Regions from separate parts of the Homo sapiens genome. Here regions 1, 2 and 3 are each reported to be linked to region 4. The links are microRNA targets in miRTarBase. Many come from high-throughput screens and were not tested one by one. Region 4 holds a microRNA gene; each other region holds the end of a gene's coding sequence.
Evidence for each region. Region 4 holds the annotated microRNA hsa-miR-106b-5p (UAAAGUGCUGACAGUGCAGAU, at 2,757-2,777, shown strand). A microRNA usually pairs through its seed, bases 2 to 8, with sites in the 3' UTR of a target mRNA and lowers its output. Matches are read on the target gene's strand: a 7mer-m8 pairs with bases 2 to 8, a 7mer-A1 pairs with bases 2 to 7 and ends in A, and an 8mer does both.

Region 1: miRTarBase lists HECA as a target of hsa-miR-106b-5p. The part of its 3' UTR that is shown has no 7-base or 8-base seed match.
Region 2: the mRNA of HMGCL is a reported target of hsa-miR-106b-5p. The part of its 3' UTR that is shown has no 7-base or 8-base seed match.
Region 3: the mRNA of TSPAN6 is a reported target of hsa-miR-106b-5p. Seed matches in the 3' UTR shown: 7mer-m8 at 1,266-1,272.

What each region holds. Positions count from the first base shown.
Region 1 is chr6:139,174,990-139,180,473 of GRCh38, reverse strand. HECA (hdc homolog, cell cycle regulator) reads right to left here. Exons shown (of 4, transcript NM_016217.3): 4 at 1-3,533. The coding sequence ends at 3,369. It also overlaps a transcript of TXLNB not described here. Among named protein-coding and RNA genes, the nearest start is that of HECA, 43 kb to the right of the region's middle. RefSeq lists an enhancer at 4,963-5,032.
Region 2 is chr1:23,798,291-23,803,774 of GRCh38, forward strand. HMGCL (3-hydroxy-3-methylglutaryl-CoA lyase) reads right to left here. Exons shown (of 9, transcript NM_000191.3): 9 at 3,595-4,274. The coding sequence ends at 4,173. It overlaps GALE (UDP-galactose-4-epimerase), which reads right to left and starts at 2,464. Exons shown (of 12, transcript NM_001008216.2): 1 at 2,422-2,464; 2 at 1,076-1,146; 3 at 597-722; 4 at 325-440. The coding sequence starts at 717. RefSeq lists silencers at 1,875-1,974, 2,025-2,504, 2,665-2,874.
Region 3 is chrX:100,626,807-100,632,290 of GRCh38, forward strand. TSPAN6 (tetraspanin 6) reads right to left here. Exons shown (of 8, transcript NM_003270.4): 7 at 3,953-4,060; 8 at 302-3,180. The coding sequence ends at 3,992. Among named protein-coding and RNA genes, the nearest start is that of TSPAN6, 7.3 kb to the right of the region's middle.
Region 4 is chr7:100,091,967-100,096,819 of GRCh38, reverse strand. It overlaps MIR106B (microRNA 106b), which reads left to right and starts at 2,746; the gene lies at 2,746-2,827. It overlaps COPS6 (COP9 signalosome subunit 6), which reads right to left. Exons shown (of 10, transcript NM_006833.5): 10 at 4,633-4,853. It overlaps MCM7 (minichromosome maintenance complex component 7), which reads left to right. Exons shown (of 15, transcript NM_005916.5): 11 at 653-1,046; 12 at 1,350-1,433; 13 at 2,479-2,647; 14 at 3,419-3,528; 15 at 3,687-4,092. The coding sequence ends at 3,888. MIR25 (microRNA 25) reads left to right here and starts at 3,177; the gene lies at 3,177-3,260. It also overlaps MIR93. RefSeq lists an enhancer at 819-1,319.

The DNA.
Region 1 (5,484 bases), not on the chromosome of region 4:
CTCACTTCCTTCCCAACCTCCAATGAAAGTTACTCAACAGCTGCTACCAGGACACAAAACAGAAAAGCAAACTGGAGTTCCTGACCTAGACACAGGAGAACAGACTGTGTATTAAGCATCAGTCTTGCAGGACTAAACAAAAGACTTAGCAAATTAGTTCTGGTGCTCTAATAAGGTACATATCTGTCTTATCTGTTAGTTTTAGAGTTCAAATACCTAATAAGATTCTTTTTAGATGAGTTAATTTTCCCCCAACATATATGAAAATACCTTTTACTCAGAAAATGAACTTCTTGAACAAAACCTAGAAGTTAAAGGGCATTTAAGGAAAGCTCCTCTGTAACTAGAATGGGATAATTCACCCAACTCCCCAACTTCATGGCACCATGTCTATCTTTTAAAGTATAAACCCATTATATCAACTGCTTCAAATGTAACAAGAGAATGAAGAGGTGAGATGGCCTGAAGAGAAAACAATCAATCAGAAATTGTCCTCTCACTAAAGCAGATCATTGTATCTGCTCAAGGTATAAAACTCTTAAAAATAAATAATTAAAAAATATTAAGAATAGACGAAAAATCACTTTGAAATTATTAGTCACTCTTAAGACTGCTTCATTTTACTGAACACTATTCATCAGAAAAACAAATTGGATCTCTTGGGTAACTAATATCCTTTTAGTATCCTAACTACAACAAAAATACTAACCTTTTTTGATATATTCCAATTCCAATCAAAGTATTCAGGGCAAGCTTGGGGTATTAAGGTCAGTAGATTTCCAAAATAAGATTTATCTTCATGGTGTTGAATATTCGATTATATTTTATTCCCAAATCAGCCAGATTTTCCCTCTAGACAAGAATGAATCGTCTTAAAGGCAAAAGATATTCCCAGATATGCTTCATGCTCTTATGCTTTTCTCTTTAAGTAACATCCACAGAATCCTTACTTTAGCATCGAAATAATGTCCAAGAGTAAACTTTACCCAATTACAGTAAAACCTCATCCTATTTATTGTTCAGGGGGTAGAAAGCCATCTAAAAAGGCAACATGGAACACAGCATACACTACACTGACGGCAGTTCTAAATTCAGGAGCTTGCTGAATGCAATGTATAGGTCAATTGTAAGCTTCAGAACAACAATATAAAGCAGGTTTCACTATAAAATTTTAGGTGGGTTAAAGATCAGCATCATAAATATTTTACTATTTAAATTCAGAAATAAAATCCAAATGGTATTACGAGGACAAGAGAAACTTAGCACTTTTTGCATCTGGGTACAGGAGAGAATCAATAAGGAGATAGTTAATTCACCACTACAGCTTTGTGCATTAAAGACAAGTTTGCAGAAAGCTATGTCTTACAATCCTCTTTTAGTTGCATCAAACACTGTCAGTTCAATGACTTTCTACTTCTTATAGGCATTTTATGCATTTCTTCCCACTGAAATGTTTTTTCAGATGATCAAACACCAACCTAGATGCAGCAAACCAAATCATCCAAACTGAAAGATGAATGATATTAGTGAATAACATTGGTTCTTTAATGCTGTATTGTTTCAAACAAAACATCAAATACTTCATATAGAACTGAAACTTGGCCAGGCACAGTGACTCACGCCTGTAATCCCAGCACTTTGGGAGGCCGAGGCAGGCAGATCACAAGGTCAGGAGATCTAGACCATCCTAGCTAACATGGTGAAACGCTGTCTCTACTAAAAATACAAAAAATTAGCCGGGTGTGGTGGCACGTGCCTATAGTCCCAGCTACCTGGGAGGCTGGGACAGGAGAATCGCTTGAATCCAGGAGGCAGAGGTTGCAGTGAGCTGAGATCGCACTACTGCACTCCAGCCTGGGTGACAAGAGTGAGACTCCATCTCAAAAAAAAGAAAAAAAGAACTGAAACTCACGTGCAATATTGCCTAAATACTTCTGAAAAGAAAAACCACACAGTTAAAAAAAAAAAAAAAAAAGTATAAACCAAATGAGTAACATAAAATGTTCACATCAACCCCAAATTTGGCTATTCATAAAATGATTTTCTGCATTCTTTTAGCATATATGCACATCATACATGAAATTATCAAATTAATTTTTGAGAAATCATATTCCAATTCTATAAGGGTATGCGACGTCAGTCTATTTAAAGCATTAAAATCTACTGAACCAAAGGCTGTATTTTGGAATGCCCAATGCTCTGACTAATCAAGTTCTATATATATGATCATCCTTTTTCATCAACAGTAAGGTATCATGGGCTTTTTAGAATGGTCTATTTTTCAAACATACTGCTATGCATTAAAATCATTGATTTTCCAAAACATACTTTTAAAAGAAATAGTAAAATTATTTTCTTCATCATCCTTTCACACTTTTTTCCCTTCCCTCTTAAGGTCAAATCTTTGATTTTGGAAACTCAGAATTAATTGGTTATACATGGCCATAAGCAATTTTGAGGACAATAAATGTGGCAATTATTGGTTCTGAAGCTCACCAGTTAGATTCTGTGGCTGAAAGATTTACCTGTGAGAAGAACCTGACACCAAATGACACTTCAACAGTGCAACCTGTAATAAATCATCACTGCCCAAATCAGGTTATTCATGGGTTCTCCTTAAAAGCTATATTACCAACTTCAAAGACACAATTTAAATGATTGAGTTCTGCCTTCTTGCATTATTTCCAAATTCATTTCACATATTCTGTTATAGGTCAGTTTACCTAAACATATTTGCAACACTAATATCTTTCATATGTCTTACAATTTGGATATTACTTTCAGCATGAAAAATGAACTGGCAAATTACAATAGTGATAGAAACAGCACTTGTGCCACTTTCAGGTCACCTGTCAGTGTGAGTAAACTGCCTGCCCATGTGTGCTGCAGAACACTAGGCTGAGATAGACTAATGCACTATTAGCTCTCCAGGCACAGACTTACATTCACTTGTCACATATTTTTCCAAAGGCCCAAGGAAGATCTAAAAGAAGGTTTTTAGAAAGTTAACATTTTAGTAAGAGTTTCCTTCCAACTCCTATCAAGCTCTTAGTTTATAACCACAAATTCCTTTCCTAAATTCACCCCATCCTCCCCACCATCTTAAAGCTGCATCAAAGATTCTTGGTAAGAGTGAACCCCAACCCAAATGCACAGGATTACCCATCTGGGCTCTGGTCAAAACCACAGATTAACACTCGGGAATCAAGACAGGGCAAGGGCAGCCCCTATTTTAGTGGCACACATACAACAAAGTAACTCTCCTTTAAATTAGAAAGGAAATTAATGTCACAGAATGTTTCCCTATAAAAGATATGTAATAAAGTAATAATATCAATAAAATAGCTATTACTAAAGCAAAGCTTTCATCAATAAGCTTCGAGAACTTTGAAGGAGGAAAATGGCTTCACGAAGTGGTAGTCCAGGTTCCCACAGTGTGGACACTGCTGGACGTTGCTATATTCGGAGAAGTACTGCATCCCGATCCTCACGTCGATCACCGGCTTCCCACAGTGCTTACAGTTCAGGCGGGCCTGGGGGAAACAGACACCATCAGCCACAACACCCCTCCACTTCCCAACACTTGTCAAAGTCATCCAAACCAAAATGCTGGGAAACTGATCAAGGGCTTTGCAAAGCATCCCTTTTACTACCAAAAACATGGAAACGGGGTATACCTGAAAGACTCCCAACTTCTCTCCTGATATGCAGCACTGCTAGCTGTTTCACCTACTTATGAGAAGAAAATTCTAAACTACTACTGCCTAAATGCTCTCCACTGAAGTTCCCTAACAATAAGAAACCCCTCCCCCTGGATTTTAAGACAGCGGCTGAAGCTGACTTCCCTCACCCAAACCTCCACGAAACTTCTTTGAAATTTCATTTTTCATTCTACTCTATAGAAAAGTTGCGTTTTCTTTGATGTAAAAATAAAATTTCCCAAGATACTCAAGTAAAATTAGCAATCCAGGAAGTGCGGTGCTGGTCTGAGGCTTCTGGAGTTCCCAGCACCCTGCATCTTCACTCATGCCTAGCCTCTCCGTAACAGCACAGTCCTGGAACCTTTCAGCAATGGGTCCAGGACTTAAGTGAATAACCACAAATTATAAATAAAACAGACTCAATTTAGACTCATTTTAAAAATGTACTTAAAAAGTATAATCTCAACTTGTTCTCAAAATACTCCTGGGAGGTAGGTAGTATTAGCTGACTTTTAGATAATGCAACTGAGGCACATGTGATAAAGCACCATGCCAAAGACCATGGTTAGAAAGCAGCAAGGCTGGAGTGAACCAAAGCAGCCTGCTGATCCTCAGCCACTGCAGGAACTACTTTTCTGTAACCTGAGATAAACACTCTTTTAACTACGTAATCTCTCTGAACAACATTAAAAGTGTGATTCTGAGCAAACCCGTCTTCACACTGTTATACCTTTCTAAGAATCAATTATTGCTTATTTTTGGCTACATCTTATTGAAGACTTCCCTTGATTCATTAGTAGCGTCTAACACTTGTATCCTCACTGATTTTTTTAAATTAACAATAATCGAACATATTTTCCATTTCAGTAGGGGGCCAGAAAAGAAAGGTCTGGGCTTCAATTGTTTTAAGGAAGAAATACAGTGCATGGTGAATACCAAGAGGCTGGGTGTGGCAGGATGCTGTTCTGTTTTTCCTCCTAAAGACATGGAAATAATCTCATTGCCTTTCAATGGTGTACCAGAAAGAACACCAGAACAGGAGTCACACGGTGCAGTCATGGCTGTGACACAATGTATGTAGACCTGGGTAAAACATCCCAAGTTTGTAGGCCTCCATTGTATGAGGAAATAAGGAGGTCGGTCTAGATCCCAGGTCCTTTCCAGTGCTAATCTTCTGAGTTAACAGGCTCAAAAGTTCTTTCACTTCCTTATTTCTTCAATTTAAAAGATAATCCTCCACGGTGTGTGTGTGCAGAGGGGAGCCACTTCCTCTGGTTTCTCTCAAGAGCTGGCATCAAGGCACAATAACTATCATAAAATGCCACAGTGAATAACTACTGATAATAGTAAAGATACTCTCTTTACAAAAATCAAGCCATAATGCTAAAGACATAAAACTATGCAGTAACTAATGAAGTATGTATCAGCTATTTGTACTAAAAAACCAGGCTGGAACACTTTAGAGCAAAGAAAAATTTCTCTCCTGCCCATGAGAGTATCAAGGAATTACCTAACAAGCTGTTTTCTTCCCCAAGCACTTGGAAATAAAGCAAGATATTTCCAAGCATTTTGTCTCCTGTGATTCTATAGGTTATTTGTGTTTTCATATGTGAATACTTCCCTCTTTTTCTGATGACAGCTAAATTTCAGATGTCCTCATAGCATGAGACAATGCCTCCTTTTAGTAGTGCTTTAAGGATTACAACCTCAAACACCTTACAAGGCATGCAATTCCTGGATAACTGTACTATCCCACAGAAAGAAAACAAGAAAATCCTATTTA
Region 2 (5,484 bases), not on the chromosome of region 4:
GCCTGCCTGCCTGCACTCACCTTTTTTTTTTTTTTTGACAGTCTCGCTCTGTTGTCCAGGCTGGAGTACAGTGGTGCCATCTCAGCTCACCGCAACCTCCACCTCCCAGGCTCAAGCCATCCTCCCATGCCAGCCTCCCGAGTAGCTGGGACCACAGGTATGGGCTACCATGCCCAGCTAATTTTTGTATTTTTCTGTAGAGATGGGGTTTCACTGTGTTGAGCAGGCTGGTCTTGAACACCTGGGCTCAAGTGATCTCCTCACCTCGGCCTTCCAAAGTGCTGGAATTACAGGCGTGAGCCACCGTGCCCAGCCTGCACCCACCTTTTTGAAGAGACGCTGTAGGGCTCCCTGGTCCAAAATGTCCATCTCCTCAAACTCCACAGAGCGGCCTGTCAGCTCCTGGACCCGCCGCAGGCTCTCAGGCAGGGAGCCCCCTCCTGGTAGGGTACATGTAGGCCACATCATCACGACATGGGGTGCTGTGTTCCCAGGGACTAGCCAGACACACATTCCCCGCCCGGTGGTGGAGGTGGAACCCAGGGTTTTGCTTCTGCCATCCCCTCAAGTAGCCCCAGCCCCACTGCCCCGCTCACCACGGAAGGCATTATGGAAGTTATCGATGACCACAGGCAAGTAGCCAGCCTCCAGCAGCTCCAGCACCGTGTGGCTGCCAATGTAGCCAGCCCCACCTGTTACCAGCACCTTCTCTGCCATGGCACCTGGCCCAGGATACAGAGTCTCAGAGGTGGCTGAGGCTGCCTGCTCAGAGCTTCCTTCCCACTGGAATCCTGCCCCCTAAGCTCGCTTTGGAAGGAGGCGGCAGTGTGCCCTAGGTACCAGACTGGCTCAGAAGTCAGCCCTGGGGCAAGTCTGGGTACCATCACTTTCTGGCCTTAGGCTTTGGAAATTAATTAGCCTCTTGGCCTCAGTTTCTATCTCTGTAAAACAGAGCTAATAATTGTATAAACTTCATGAGGCAGCGTGAGGGTTCAGTGAGGTGATCTTAAGGGCCCGCCACAGCAGAGCTGGGGAGACCTGACACACAGGCACCTTATTTTCTAGTTCCACTTGCCTTGGAGTTGGAAAAGATGGAATCTGAGGATCCACACTTCTTTGTCCAAGGTGACTGAGGACTGGAGAGTCCTGGGCAGAAGGAAAATGGCAGCACGATTGGGACTCCAGGGTCGCAGGAAGGGGTTCTGTCTGCTCAGACCCAGGCTTGTCCAATGCCTCCGCCTTCGCTAGGTGTAAACTGGCTCCTGGGCGCAGTGACTAATACCTCCTGCTCTAGGCGGCCCCCACCCCCTTTCCCTCAAGGGTCAGCTGGGAGGAAGCAGGAAATAGATCACATGGCCTCAAGGGTGAGGTCCTTTGCCAGGCAGGCTGAGGCCAGCTCAGGGGCAACCACACCGTGGTTGGTCCTGGAGGGGGCCCCACCCCAACCCCCGCTCAGCCTCTGCCCATGCCAGGGCCAGCCCGGTCACTCCTGGCTCAGAGTTAGGAATCCCGCCCAACTTAGGCTACTCTGGGTGGGCCGTGTAGACGTGGACTTGGCCAGGTGCGCACCTCCACCCTGAACAAACTCTGCGGGTAGTACGGGGAGGAAGCCCCAGACACTGAGGCCTTTCATTCCCAGCGACCGGGCCCGCTGCCGCCTTCCTCCACGCTGCCTCTATCCCCTTCTGGGCTCACGCAGCTCCAACCCACTTGACCAAGAGCCCTCTGCGTGCCAGGCTCCGTACCAGGCACTTTTGCATGATTTTCCTGAATTCCCCCAGCATCTCGGTGAGACAGGTGTTATCACTGGCACTTTACAGATACAGATACTAGGGCCAGAGAGGTGAAACAGTTGCCCTTCGGTCCCACAGCTGGCGACAGCGGGCTGGAATCTGGATCGCCAGGCTCGCAGCCCGGCCCTCTCCCCAGGCGGCTCGCCCTTCCCCCACCGCTGCCCGCTGGACTCTGCCCGCCGCGCCGAAGCCGCCCCCGCCCCCGCCCCGCGCCTGGCGCGGACCCCGAAAGTGGTCGCAGAGAGGCCCTGGGAAGCACGAAAGCTGGTCTGAGGCCGGCTGCGCCCCCGACAGCGGAGTGACCTTGCTCAGCCGTCGCCCACTCGGTTTTCCCAGTCTGTCTGTTGGAGGGAAGGGGAGCTAGGCCGTGGGCATACGAGGGCGGCTGGGTCTCAGGCTGGGCTTTGGGCTGTAGCGCGGAGCGGGGCCGAGCTAGGAGTCCTCAGGCCGGCAATGAATGAACCCCGGCCGCCCCAGCCCGGGCAGCGGGGAACTGGGACAAAGGGGGCGGGCCTGCCCTGGAGGGACGCTGCCAGGAACACGACCCGCCCCTCGGAAACTCCCTCGCTCCCCGCGGACTCCCCGGCCCCTCGCGAGCCCACCCGGCCCTTCATTCCGTCTCCCGAACCTGCTCGGGTTCCCGCGCCCCACGCTTGCTGCAGAGGCACCGCCTCCTACGCCCGAGCCGCGGGCCCTTTAAGTGCTGACGGCCCACTCCGGCCCCGACCCCGCCCCTCCACGCCCCCAAGGAAACATGTCACTCGGGTTACGGCCACTACGGGGAGGGCGGGAGGACAAAAGGCCTCCGCGCTGTGACGAAGACTGCGCAGCGCGCGCCCGCGGAAGGCGGAAGTGGGCGGTGCCACCCCGCGAGAGGCGCCGCCGGCGCCAGGTCCCAGTAGCGGGTGGGTCCTTGCCGGTGCCCCGGGTCCCCGCGCTAGCTCGTCCCAACCCCTGGAAGAGGGCTGCGCTTCCGAGGGGGCAGGGGGCAGAGGGTAGGGGGCCCACGCCTCCGCCCCACTCTGACCCGCAGGTTTTCAGACTTGCCGGTGTGTGCCAAACCATGAATTCAAAATCTTGAACTACCCGATCCCACGGGACTAAGGCAGGAGGGGGTCGCAGGGGGCCTGGTGCTGGAAGTCCAGTTTGCAAATAAACCAAGGAGCTGGAGGAAGCTGTCAGGCCACACTAGCGGTTCCAGCGCTCTTGGCTCTCAGCCCCCACCTGCCGGGAAGGGTCGGTCTGCACTCTGCCTTCCACGACGGCAGGTTAGAAAATGATTGTTTGTTTACAATGAAAAGTAGTAGAGCTAGAGAATAATATGCACAAAATGTGACATCCTGCGTGATGAAACCAGAGCAAAGGAGCCCTAAATGCAGGAGCGCACAGGTGTCCGCGCAGCCGGGAATCAGCCAGCGCCTGCCCGCAGAGTCCAGGGAACCGACAGGTGAGCGCTCCCGGGCCCGGGAGCGCCAGGGAGAGGCCGGGCCACCGAGGCCCAAAGCAGCAAGTGTGTCCTCAGGGGAGCTTGTGCAATAGCCCCAGTCACAGAGGCAAAGCTCAGAAACAACCCCGTCGGGTGTTCTGGCCAGCAACTGCCGCAAGCAGCCTCCTGAGTAAGCCCAAAACCACTGATTTCCAGTCACTATGGATTTGGGGCTCAGGTGGGGAAACAGGGAGGAAATCCAAAGATTAATAAACTAGTTCATAGTCTCCATTTTCCTCTCAGAGTGCAACATGGTAAAGTATTTTACTCCCCCACGCGCATGTATACACACAGCTGCACAACCGAATGCTGGAATTATGATGTGCCATTCAACCTTTAATTACATAAGCTGTTTTCAAAAATCACATTCAGCGTGGAGATTTTCCAGAGATGCTGGAGTTGGCAGACGGCCACCACGTAGCTCTCCACTTTCCACAAATGGCCTCTGCCAGCTTGGGAAGAACCTCCATGACCTGTGTCCTGAGAAGTCAGAGAGCAAGGGCCCCACGGCCATGGCAGGGTGGAGCCGTGTAGAGGGTGGCCAGGTGGCCAGCTCGCGGATTCCATCCAGAGAGGAGACTCAAGGATCATGCTAAGTAGGGAACGGGGTTCCCACACGTCCTCAGGCATTCAACTCCTGGGCCAGGGTCCGTAACAAAGGGAGACTTCAGCCCTCAAAGCCTCTCACTCCTCAGGTCTGGGCAGGAGGTCCTTCTGCCAAGCAGCTCCTCCTGCCCTTCGCCTGCTTTCTGCCAGGAGAGACCTCTGTGTAGAGCTGGCTATGAGGTACCTGCACCATTTAACCTATTCTCATTTCCATGTCCCCATCCATGAATCATCTGTGTGTGCCCCTATTTCCACATCATCCCCAGGGCTTCAGGTGGGCAAGGGGCTCAGAGTTTACAGGTAGCCTGAGCCACTTTGGAGCTAGTTTTTCTGTTCAGGGCTTGACAGATAAAGTTTCCAGCTTCCAGAAGCTTCTGGAGATTCACACCCTTTGAGAAACAAGTTAGAGGATGCGGTAAGTCATGGTATGCCCTCAACACCAGGGAAAACATCAGCATGGACAGACAACTGTGATACTGAAAAGTAAAGGTGAAGATAAACAGGCTTTTTCCTTGACAGCGGGGCACCAGCTGCCTGTGAGCTCCTGTCTGTCTGGCACCTGGGTTATTCCTCTGACTCCCCCTCATGTAAGATGCCCAATCTCTGTCATGGTTTGTAGTGCCACTACCAGGGCACAGATCTTATCAGTCTTGTTCAGTACTCCCTCTTCAGGGCCCAGCACAGGGCCTGGCCCACAGAGGTAAAAAACTGATATTCAAGTGACAATTGTGAGGCAGAGAGGGAGGGATAAAAACACCAACTGAAAGGGCCAGACAGAAACCCTCTGTTCATACAGTAGCTCATATTTGCTGAAGTGCACTCTGTGCTCAGCTCTGTGATAAGCATTCTACATAACTTTTCTTTCTTTTTTTTTTTGGAGACAGAGTTTGCTCTTGTCGCCCAGGCTGGAGTGCAATGGCACGCTCTCAGCTCACTGCAACCTCTGCCTCCCGGGTTCAAGTGATTCTCCTGCCTCAGCCTCCCGAGTAGCTGGGGTTACAGGTGTGTGCCACCACACCCAGCTAATTTTTCTTTTCTTTTTTTTGAGAGGGAGTCTCACTGTGTCGCCAGGCTGGAGTACAGTGGCGTGATCTTGGCTCACTGCAACCTCTGACTCCTGGGTTCAAGCAATTCTCCTGCCTCAGTCTCCCGAGTAGCTGGGATTACAGGTGCGTGCCACCACACCCAGCTAATTTTTGTATTTTTAGTAGAGATGGGGTTTCACCATGTCGGCCAAGCTGGTCTCGAACTCCTGACCTCAGGTGATCTGCCCACCCTGGCCTCCCAAAGTGCTGGGATTACGGGCGTGAGCCACCGTGCCCAGCAATTTTTCTATTGTTAGTGGAGACAGTGTTTCACCATATTGGCCAGGCTGGTCTCAAACTCTTGACCTCAGGTGATCCACCCGCCTTGGCTTCCCAAAGTGCTGGGATTACAGGCGTGCGCCTGGCCCTCTACGTACGTTTTCTTACTTAATCCTCACAATGGCTCCATGAGATGGATGGCATTATTATTCCCATTTCTTAGGTTCAGAGAGATGAAATAATTTGTCTGAGGTCTCATAGCCTGGGAGTGGCAGGAGTAGGCTTTAAACCCAGT
Region 3 (5,484 bases), not on the chromosome of region 4:
TGAGTAGCTGGGACTACAGGCGCCCGCCACCATACCTGGCTAATTTTTTTGTATTTTTAGTAGAGACGGGGTTTCACCGTATTAGCCAGGATGGTCTCGATCTCCTGACCTCGTGATCCACCTGCCTCAGCCTCCCAAAGTGCTGGGATTACAGGTGTGAGCCACCGCGCCCGGCTCTGTGTCTCATATTTTAACAGGTTTGTTTGGGTGCATCACCAACTTGGATTCTGACAGGAGGTTGAAAACATCAAGTCTCAAAGATTCTTTTGTGAGCTCTGAGGAAAACCAGAAATGGTATTTATACCTTGTATTAGGTATTTATTTCCACAAAAGTTTGATGCTTACAACATAAACCCAACAACCCACCTGGAATAGGCCATGGAAATCTAACAAGCTTTTCACACTTAAGATATACCTAGAGATTTCTGCTTCTCAAAATGTCACCTTGCAGTGAGCAACCTGGTGCCTGGAAATAAGGCAACCCACATCAATTTTGGGACATCAAAAATGAATTATTTTAAACATAGATATATAGTGAAGTAAAATGTAAAATTCTCCAGATTTCTATAAAACAAAACTTAAAAGCTCAAAACCCCCAGCCTGTGCCACTAAGGGAAACTCACTCCCTCTGCCATTAGGATTGTCACCATGGAAATGAGCAGACCTACTGCCTCCAGTGGAAACTGGATCTCTCTCTCCAATCTAGTGATCCCTCTTTCTAACCAGCTAGTCTAATTAGCAAACTATTAAAGACACGTGAACTTTCCTTTGTACCAGTTATCATTAGGTGAAATGTTTCCTCATTACTTTCAGAATTAAGTATACAATTCAGTATGCACAAGCACACATCAGCTATAAGGGCGTTTTCTAACTGGCTATCCAAAATAAACCCATCTTAAAAATAAACAAACCAATCCACCTGACGAGTGATGTGTGGTGTTTTTCCTCTTTCTACATTCTATATTTTAATTTTCTATAATTTTTCCTTTTTAATAATGAGGGAAAACTTTTTTTTTTTTTCTGAGATGCAGGTTCACTCTTATCGCCCAGGCTGGAGTGCAGTGGTGTGATCTCGGCTCACTGCAACCTCTGACTCCTGGATTCAAGTGATTCTCCTGCCTCAGTCTCCCAAGTAGCTGGGATTACAGGTGCTTGCCACCACACCCAGCTAATTTTTGCATTTTTATTAGAGACGGTGTTTTACCATGTTGGCCAGGCTGGTCTAGAACTCCTGACCTCAGGTGATCCGCCCGCCTCAGCCTCTCAAAGTGCTGGGATTACAGATGTGAGCCACCATGGCTGGCTGAGGGAAAACTTTTTTAAAAACTCTAAATATAACCTTAAAACATTCTTCAAAACCACTGCAGTGAAAAATATGTATTTGAAAATTGCTGATAATCCTTTAAATATTTGCTTCTTTAATCTCAGTAGCCAAAAATCTGATTTGCTGTACTTGAGTCACTATTTTTCAACTTAATTTTCTTATCACCTTATCCTATGTCAAAAGTCACACATCAAATGTTCTAATGGAGAATATCATTTTTCTGCAATAACTCCAAGCATTTTAAAACACATACTCAAAATTCATGATCATTTAACTAGTAGTTTTTGCCCAGGTTTTTTTCTAACTGTAACTGACTCCCCCTTACCATCAATTCAAGGACTGTGGCAATCAGACTAGACAGGTTCTACTAATGGATGTATAAAGAGACTCAAAACCAAAGAAATAATTCCCTGACTTCAACTCAAATTTTAGTAATTATTATTTTCCTTATTAATTTCCCTATTATCCTGAAGATACAGGTTACATCCCTCCCTGTACAACTTTTTAATGCAAACTATACAATCAAAAAAGTCTGATCTCTAGGAGAACACTAGTCATATGCTACTTTATAACATGGAATATAATTTTTTTCACAGAGAACAGTTTTTTTTAATATTTGCACTTTAAGATTTTTTTGTTTACATTAAGTTCTGGGATACATGTGCAGAATGTGCAGGTTTGTTACATAGGTATACATGTGCCATGGTGGTTTGCTGCACCTATGGGAACAGTTTTTTTTAAACAAAAACATTTTTTTTAATACAGAGTTAAGGCCGCAGGCTTATATTTCACATCTAAAAACAGTACTCTGAATAGAAATGTAGGGCTTAGCTTTCTCAGTGGAAAACAACAACCATTCCAGCAGATTTTCTACAAGTTAATTTAAACACGATCTTTTTAGAGGAAAGCAGTATTTATTGTATAAGAGTTATACTTATTAATCAAAGGCACAAACGAAAACTAAGACTTAAAGTTGACCATAATATTGACAAGTCATATCAACCTGGTACCAGCTAAATTTAATGAAGATAAGTTCCACTGAATTCCTAAGGAAAATACAACAATTCCGACACCATTTAATAATTAGAAACTTTCAAACAAGAGGGAAAGTATGAACATCATAATAAATGCCTCAATTTGGAGGCAAAGAAATGTAAGTTGTGTGCTGAAACCTGATGTATCACAGAACATCAGTAGTCCCTTCCAGTCGTGGATGCCTTAGACCCAAGGCCTTACACTGTTATCACCATCTGGCAACCCTGATGAGGGATGCCATCTATTGACTGACTGAAATTAAATTACACAATGTGACTCTCTGCCTGTCAGCAGAACAGAGAGTCATAAAACATTTTAACTTCTTGGTGCAAATTATACAATCAAACCAGATAACCTTGACTGGGAAGGAGCCAGTTCAGAGGGGTGAATTTTCTATCACACTACATCAATAGCAAAGTCAGAGGAATCAATTTTCCATCTTGTAACACTACATCAAAATAGCAAATTCACAGTGCCTTCCAAAGGCCCCCTACTAAGAAAAATAACAGTCAAGAGGAACACAGTATTACTTCATTTACAATTTACTAGCTCTTCCAGTGTTTCAGAGGGATACAGGGTTTCAACGATCTAACATGAATGGGATAGAAGGTGGACTTAGAACATAGCAAACATACATCTTGATTGAATCAGCCCACTGCGAGCACGGATCTTGATTGAATCAGCCTATTGGTGTAGTTTTAGGTCTACATACATCTTGATTGAATCAACCTACTGGTGTAGTTTTTTGGTCTATCAGTAAGTAGTGTTGTCAGTTCTCCAGCCAAGCAACTTTCTAATTCACAGGGGGGACCCTAAATGTCCTAAAATTAAAGAAAAAAAGTTAATGTACTTGTTACCCAAATTTCAACATCTGTATTTGCTTACATACATTCTAATCTATTCCTGCTAATGAAGACCTTCCTATGTGTTCCTAGTCAGTGGCTCAAGTAAAATGCAAAGTGTGCCCTAGGGATCAATTCAGCCAACAACAGTTCTCACAGTATTTTACCAGTCAAATACTAACGCCATTGAAACACATGTCTTCCCAAAATCTGGTTCCTTATTAGACCAGATGAGTTTACGGTTTTAACAAAAGCCCACCAAAAACATCTTTTTACCAAGAAAGCCACACTCTCAACAACTGATTAAGATTGTGGTAAATGAAAACTACGAAAAGGACTAAGGAAAATGTCAATATTGGTGAGGAGCAGAGTGCACCTGCCAGGGAACCTCACGAATAAGGTCATTCTTGGGATTCTTTGTTTCTCCTCTCTCCAGGCCAAAACATGTTAAAAAAGGGACCACTTATGATCTTTAGGCTGACATGTGTATGTAAATATATAAACCCACACGGGGAGTCTTCTGTTGCATAACTGTAGAGAGCATGCATAGATAAGCTGTAGCTAAGTCATTACTTTCTGACCATGCCCTGTGTATAGAGACCTAACCTGCCTACACAGGGTTTACATAGCACCAGCTAGATTTAAATATATTACTAGACAAGACGTTCTTGGCAAACTTAGTCCATGCATCACATACACAGGCTAGAATAAATATCAACACTAACAGAGCTGAGGACCAAAATGAACGCACCTTAAAGGTAGAGAGGAATAGGCCCACAGATACATTGGGTTACACTATCTCATACTGGTTATTTGTTATGGCACGAGAGAGGCAGTAGGCGAGAAAGATTCCAATCAGCTAGAAATAAAATAGGAACAAAATTAAATACATACACAAAAGAACTTGAACACCTCAGACTATATTCTCCTCTCACTTGTAATTCGCTTATAATTTTCGTCCTTGAGTTTTTCTAGAGTTATGTTTAATACTCTGCAGCATCTAGATCACATTCAAAGAATCTAAGTGAAGTTTTATTGCCACTGTGACCCAGAATTTCACAACTCTCACCAAAGGAAAATCCAGCAAACTCACTCAAGGAAAATTCAGTCACGAGTTTTGAAGAAACTTTTCTTACTCTCATTTCCCAGAAAAAACAAATACATGGTTTTCAATAAGTATCTTAACAAGTGAAATCTCCATCAACGAGGGCAGAGATTTCCCTGGAAAGATCCACAGCAATGCTACAATAATGAAAATGTTCTAGAATCCCTGTACTGTCCGATATAGTAGGCAGCAGCCACATGGCTACTAAGTATTTCAAATCTCCAGCAAACTGAGGTTTTAATTTTATTTAATAATTTATAACAATTCAAAGGTGGCTAGTGGCTACTGCATTAGCATAGATTTAGATATAGCTTTGCTTACTACTTTAAAAATATATTAAGACGAAACTTGAATTAGTCTTATTTCTAGTGTTTAATATAAAAAAAAACGTTCAGAGCCACAAAACAAACTTCATGCTACAGTGGGAAACACAACTTGGGAAACACAATTTGATCTACAACGTGGAATCAACCCCAAACAACTGGTGCATAAGGAATGTGGGGGTGGCATCATCTAAATTTTAATAGGTTGGAACTTGTATACAACTCATCAGGCAGTTGCAGCCCAGAAAAGATCCTAATAACATTTTAGAATCTTGACTGACCGCAGAGAGAACCAAGGTTCCTATCTAATGTTTTGTTTCATGAGCTATGATACTGGAAAGTTGCCATAACTAAGAGGGCACTGAGTCTTTCCACAGTTAACTGCTTTCAAAAGATATGCACTGCTACAAGTTAATTCTAAATCTTACTTTTTTTCTTCTTTTTTTTAATTATACTTTAAGTTCTGGGATACATGTGCAGAACGTGCAGGTTACATAGGTATACACGTGCCATGGTGGTTTGCTGCACCCATCAACCCATCATCTACATTAGGTATTTCTCCTAAATAAAGTATTTTTATACTGTGACCAGTAACTGAGAGTTTTGTGAAAATGCGACTTCCCTAAAAATGTCCTCACTATCCAGTCCCCTGAAGCAAAAACTTATAAGCCTTAAAAGTGAAAATCTCGCTGCATGCAGTGGCTCACGCCTGTAATCCCAGCACTTTGGGAGGCCGAGGAGGGCGGATCACTTGAGGTCAGGTGTTCAAGATCAGCCTGGCCAACATGGTGAAACCCCAACTCTACTAAAAATACAAAAAAATTAGCCAGGCATGGTGGCGCACACCTGTAATTC
Region 4 (4,853 bases):
AAAAAGTTTTTTTTGTTGTTTGGGTATTGTTTTGTTTTTTGTTTTTTTTGAGACGGAGTCTCAGTCACCCAGACTGGAGTGCAATGGCATGGTCTTGGCTCACTGCAACCTCTGCCTCCCAGGTTCAAGCAATTCTCCTGCTTCGGCCTCCCGAGTAGCTGGGACTACAGGCGCGTGCCACCACACTTGGCCACTTTTTGTATTTTTAGTAGAGACAGGGTTTACTGTGTTGGGCAGGCTGGTCTCGAACTCCTGACCTCGTGATCTGCCCGCCTTGTTATCGGCCTCCGAAAGTGCTGGGATTAGAGGAGTTAGCCACTGCGCCCGGCCTCTACTAAAAAGTTTTAAAAATTGGTTGGGTGTGGTAGTGAGTGCCTATAGTCTCAGTTACTTGGGAGGCTGAGGCCGGAGGATGGCTTGAGCCCAGGAGCCAAGGTTTCAGTGAGCCACAGTTGTGTTCTGAAGAGAACCAGTGGGAGGGGAAGGGGGACATTGCCAGTGCCCCACAGATCCTCGGGCATCTCAAGAAGGCCTGGTGGAGGGAGTGGAATGATCCCAGCGCAGGCCTCGCCTCCCTGGCCCGTTTGTTGTCTTTTGCTTGTTCTCTTTCTTGTTCTTTCTCTCTCATGGTTCCTTATTTCTTCTCTTCCAGGCCAGTACACAACAGGCCGGGGCTCCTCAGGAGTGGGGCTTACGGCAGCTGTGCTGAGAGACTCCGTGAGTGGAGAACTGACCTTAGAGGGTGGGGCCCTGGTGCTGGCTGACCAGGGTGTGTGCTGCATTGATGAGTTCGACAAGATGGCTGAGGCCGACCGCACAGCCATCCACGAGGTCATGGAGCAGCAGACCATCTCCATTGCCAAGGCCGGCATTCTCACCACACTCAATGCCCGCTGCTCCATCCTGGCTGCCGCCAACCCTGCCTACGGGCGCTACAACCCTCGCCGCAGCCTGGAGCAGAACATACAGCTACCTGCTGCACTGCTCTCCCGGTTTGACCTCCTCTGGCTGATTCAGGACCGGCCCGACCGAGACAATGACCTACGGTGAATGAAGCTCAACACCCAAAGAGAGGTCCCCTGTAATGATCTGTGTAGGGAGGAGGAGAGGTGAATCAGAAAACAAATTCCACGCTCCTGGAAACCCCAGAGCCTCCCCTTTGCAGCAGGGGCTGGTCCATGGTTCTCAGGGAAATGGTGGGTTGGGGCTGAAATGCTGATGAGGATTTCCCGGGAAAGCTTGTCCCTCCTACACTGTGAGGAAGTGGCAGAGCCAAAGGAGGGACACCTAAGAGGACATGGGTGCGTAGCCCTAAAAAGGGTGTTCCTTCTAACCTTCCCTCTGTCCAGGTTGGCCCAGCACATCACCTATGTGCACCAGCACAGCCGGCAGCCCCCCTCCCAGTTTGAACCTCTGGACATGAAGCTCATGAGGTAGGAGAGCTGGGTGCGGGTGGGCAAACGTTGGCGTGGGCCGTGCGAGCCTCCTGAAAAAGTGCTTATTAGTCTTAGGGTGTGTGTTTTTCACACCACCACTTCCCGCTACAGACATGTCCAGAGCCTCAGATCAGCTTTTAAGTGGAAAATTCCACACTTCATATCATAGGGACACAGGAAATTTTGTTTCCTACACTATTTATTTTTTTTGAGACGAAGTCTTGCTCTGTCACCCAGGCTGGAGTGTAGTGATCTCAGCTCTCTGCAACCTCTGCCTCCCAGATTCAAGCGATTCTCCTGCCTCAGCCTCCTGAGTAGCTGGGATTACAGGCGCACGCCACCACGCCTGGTTAATTTTTTGTATTTTAGTAGAGAGCAGTTTCACCATGTTGGCCAGGATGCCCACCTCTGCCTCCCAAAGTGCTGGGATTACAGGCATGAACCACTGCTCCTGGCCCACAAAAATATTTTTAATAAAATTACCTTCAGGTTATGTGTATCAGTTGTATATGAAATACAGGTGAATTTCATGTTTAGACTGGAGTCCCATCCCCAAGCTATCTCATGCATATGCAAATACTCCAAAATTTAAAGTTTAAAACACCTGCTCCCAGGCATTCTGGATGATAATCTCTATCGCTATTTTCCCATGAGCCTCCAGTGTTCTTTCCGGTTTTTACTCCCTTTTAAATATTCTGTAAACAGTTCTCTTTAAATAAAATATATGTTTTGCCATGTCATGCGCTCAGAGGAGGGGTCTGGATCCTCTCTTAATGACAGACGGATTTGTCTTACAAAGGCCATTTTCCCGAAAAAAATAGGAAATAACTTGGAGGATACTGGTGGGGGCTATACGTTTGGTGAAATCCATCAGTGATATTCAAGCCAAGCAAATAATCACCCACTAATTTGTGTTTTCCACTTAAAATTCTTGGAGGGGACCATGTTAAATGGGGAGCCCTGGTACAGAAAACAACATGGGCTCATATTCACTCCCTTCCCCATCTCCCTCTTCTGCTTCCCCATGAACCTTCCCCCACAGGCGTTACATAGCCATGTGCCGCGAGAAGCAGCCCATGGTGCCAGAGTCTCTGGCTGACTACATCACAGCAGCATACGTGGAGATGAGGCGAGAGGCTTGGGCTAGTAAGGATGCCACCTATACTTCTGCCCGGACCCTGCTGGCTATCCTGCGCCTTTCCACTGCTCTGGTAAGTGCCCAAATTGCTGGAGGGCCATCTGTTTTGACCCTTAAAGGGGTAGCTCCTTACCGTGCTCTCATTGCCGCCTCCCCACCTCCCGCTCCAGCCCTGCCGGGGCTAAAGTGCTGACAGTGCAGATAGTGGTCCTCTCCGTGCTACCGCACTGTGGGTACTTGCTGCTCCAGCAGGGCACGCACAGCGTCCGTGGAGGGAAAGGCCTTTTCCCCACTTCTTAACCTTCACTGAGAGGGTGGTTGGGGTCTGTTTCACTCCATGTGTCCTAGATCCTGTGCTACAGACCTTCCTTTCTGTCCTCCCGTCTTGGACCTCAGTCCTGGGGGCTCCAAAGTGCTGTTCGTGCAGGTAGTGTGATTACCCAACCTACTGCTGAGCTAGCACTTCCCGAGCCCCCGGGACACGTTCTCTCTGCCAATTGTCTTCTTGGCTGAGCTCCCCAAGCTCCATCTGTCATGCTGGGGAGCCCAGTGGCGTTCAAAAGGGTCTGGTCTCCCTCACAGGACAGCTGAACTCCGGGACTGGCCAGTGTTGAGAGGCGGAGACTTGGGCAATTGCTGGACGCTGCCCTGGGCATTGCACTTGTCTCGGTCTGACAGTGCCGGCCCAACACTGCGGATGCTGGGGGGAGGGGGGATTCCACTCCTGTTTTGTGAGTAGGCGACCCATGGGCTGCCCAGCCTTAAAGCCAGAACAAGGGTGTCCCCTGACCTCGTTCCACTGCCCTCCTCCCGTTCCCATCTTTCCCCCCTACCTTCCCCTTAGGCACGTCTGAGAATGGTGGATGTGGTGGAGAAAGAAGATGTGAATGAAGCCATCAGGCTAATGGAGATGTCAAAGGACTCTCTTCTAGGAGACAAGGGGCAGACAGCTAGGTGAGTGGTTTAGTGAAGGACAAAGCTGTGTCACTTTGTCTTCTGTGGCCATGTGTCTGAGGTTGGCCTCAATTCTAACACTGGCCACCATTGTTCTCTGTTGATGTCGAGCATTCCTGTTTGTATCCTGACCTTACACACCCACTCATTTCCTTCAGGACTCAGAGACCAGCAGATGTGATATTTGCCACCGTCCGTGAACTGGTCTCAGGGGGCCGAAGTGTCCGGTTCTCTGAGGCAGAGCAGCGCTGTGTATCTCGTGGCTTCACACCCGCCCAGTTCCAGGCGGCTCTGGATGAATATGAGGAGCTCAATGTCTGGCAGGTCAATGCTTCCCGGACACGGATCACTTTTGTCTGATTCCAGCCTGCTTGCAACCCTGGGGTCCTCTTGTTCCCTGCTGGCCTGCCCCTTGGGAAGGGGCAGTGATGCCTTTGAGGGGAAGGAGGAGCCCCTCTTTCTCCCATGCTGCACTTACTCCTTTTGCTAATAAAAGTGTTTGTAGATTGTCATCTTCTAGCCTGGGCCTGACTTCCATTAAAACAGGGTTTTGTGCGTTTTTTAGATTCCTGTTCGTTTTTATGCTATTTCATCCACTCAGTAAATTACCTGAGTAAAGTGCATCTCCCTGCCAGGCCCCCAGTATAGACACTGGGGATGCGGCAAGGACTAAGCGGTCCCTGCTGTTTGGAGATACTTAAGATGGGGCTCCACTTTTTGAGCCCCCCGACTCCCTTATTTGGTCTTATACTGCCTGTGTGCAAGTCAGGCTCTGGGGATATGGCGCCAGTATGAAATGCAGGGTCTCTTGGTTTTTCCCCTTTTCTAGCAGACAGGTCATTACTTAGTTCCCAACTCCCACTCTAAAGCTCTGGTTAGCGGGTGATGAAAATCAGCACAAGTGATCACATACAGCAATCCCAACCTTTAGACCACTTCCTAGCTGCCTCTCCAAAATATGTAGTAAACGGTCATTGAGAAACTCTCCCTCCTGGTAATTCACAGTGCCCACAGGATCAAGGCTTGGACTTCTTTCTAATAAAAATCTGCTTACTATCCCTTCTTTTTTGCGTATGTGAAAAACAAGTTAATTTAGCTCAGGAAAGTAGTCAATTATCATGTTTATAAGGTTGGGTGGGCTAGGTAAGATGATGTAGAGGGTGACATTAAAGTGTAGAACAGAGACCACTTAGGTGGAAGCAGGCAGCCTTGGACTTTGCTAAAGACCAGTCCATGTGACTGACATGGGGTCACTTCAAATGGTAGTGCCTCCCTCACTGAAGAGCATCAGAAGGGCTTCTGAGCAAGGCCAGAATGAGCCTCGA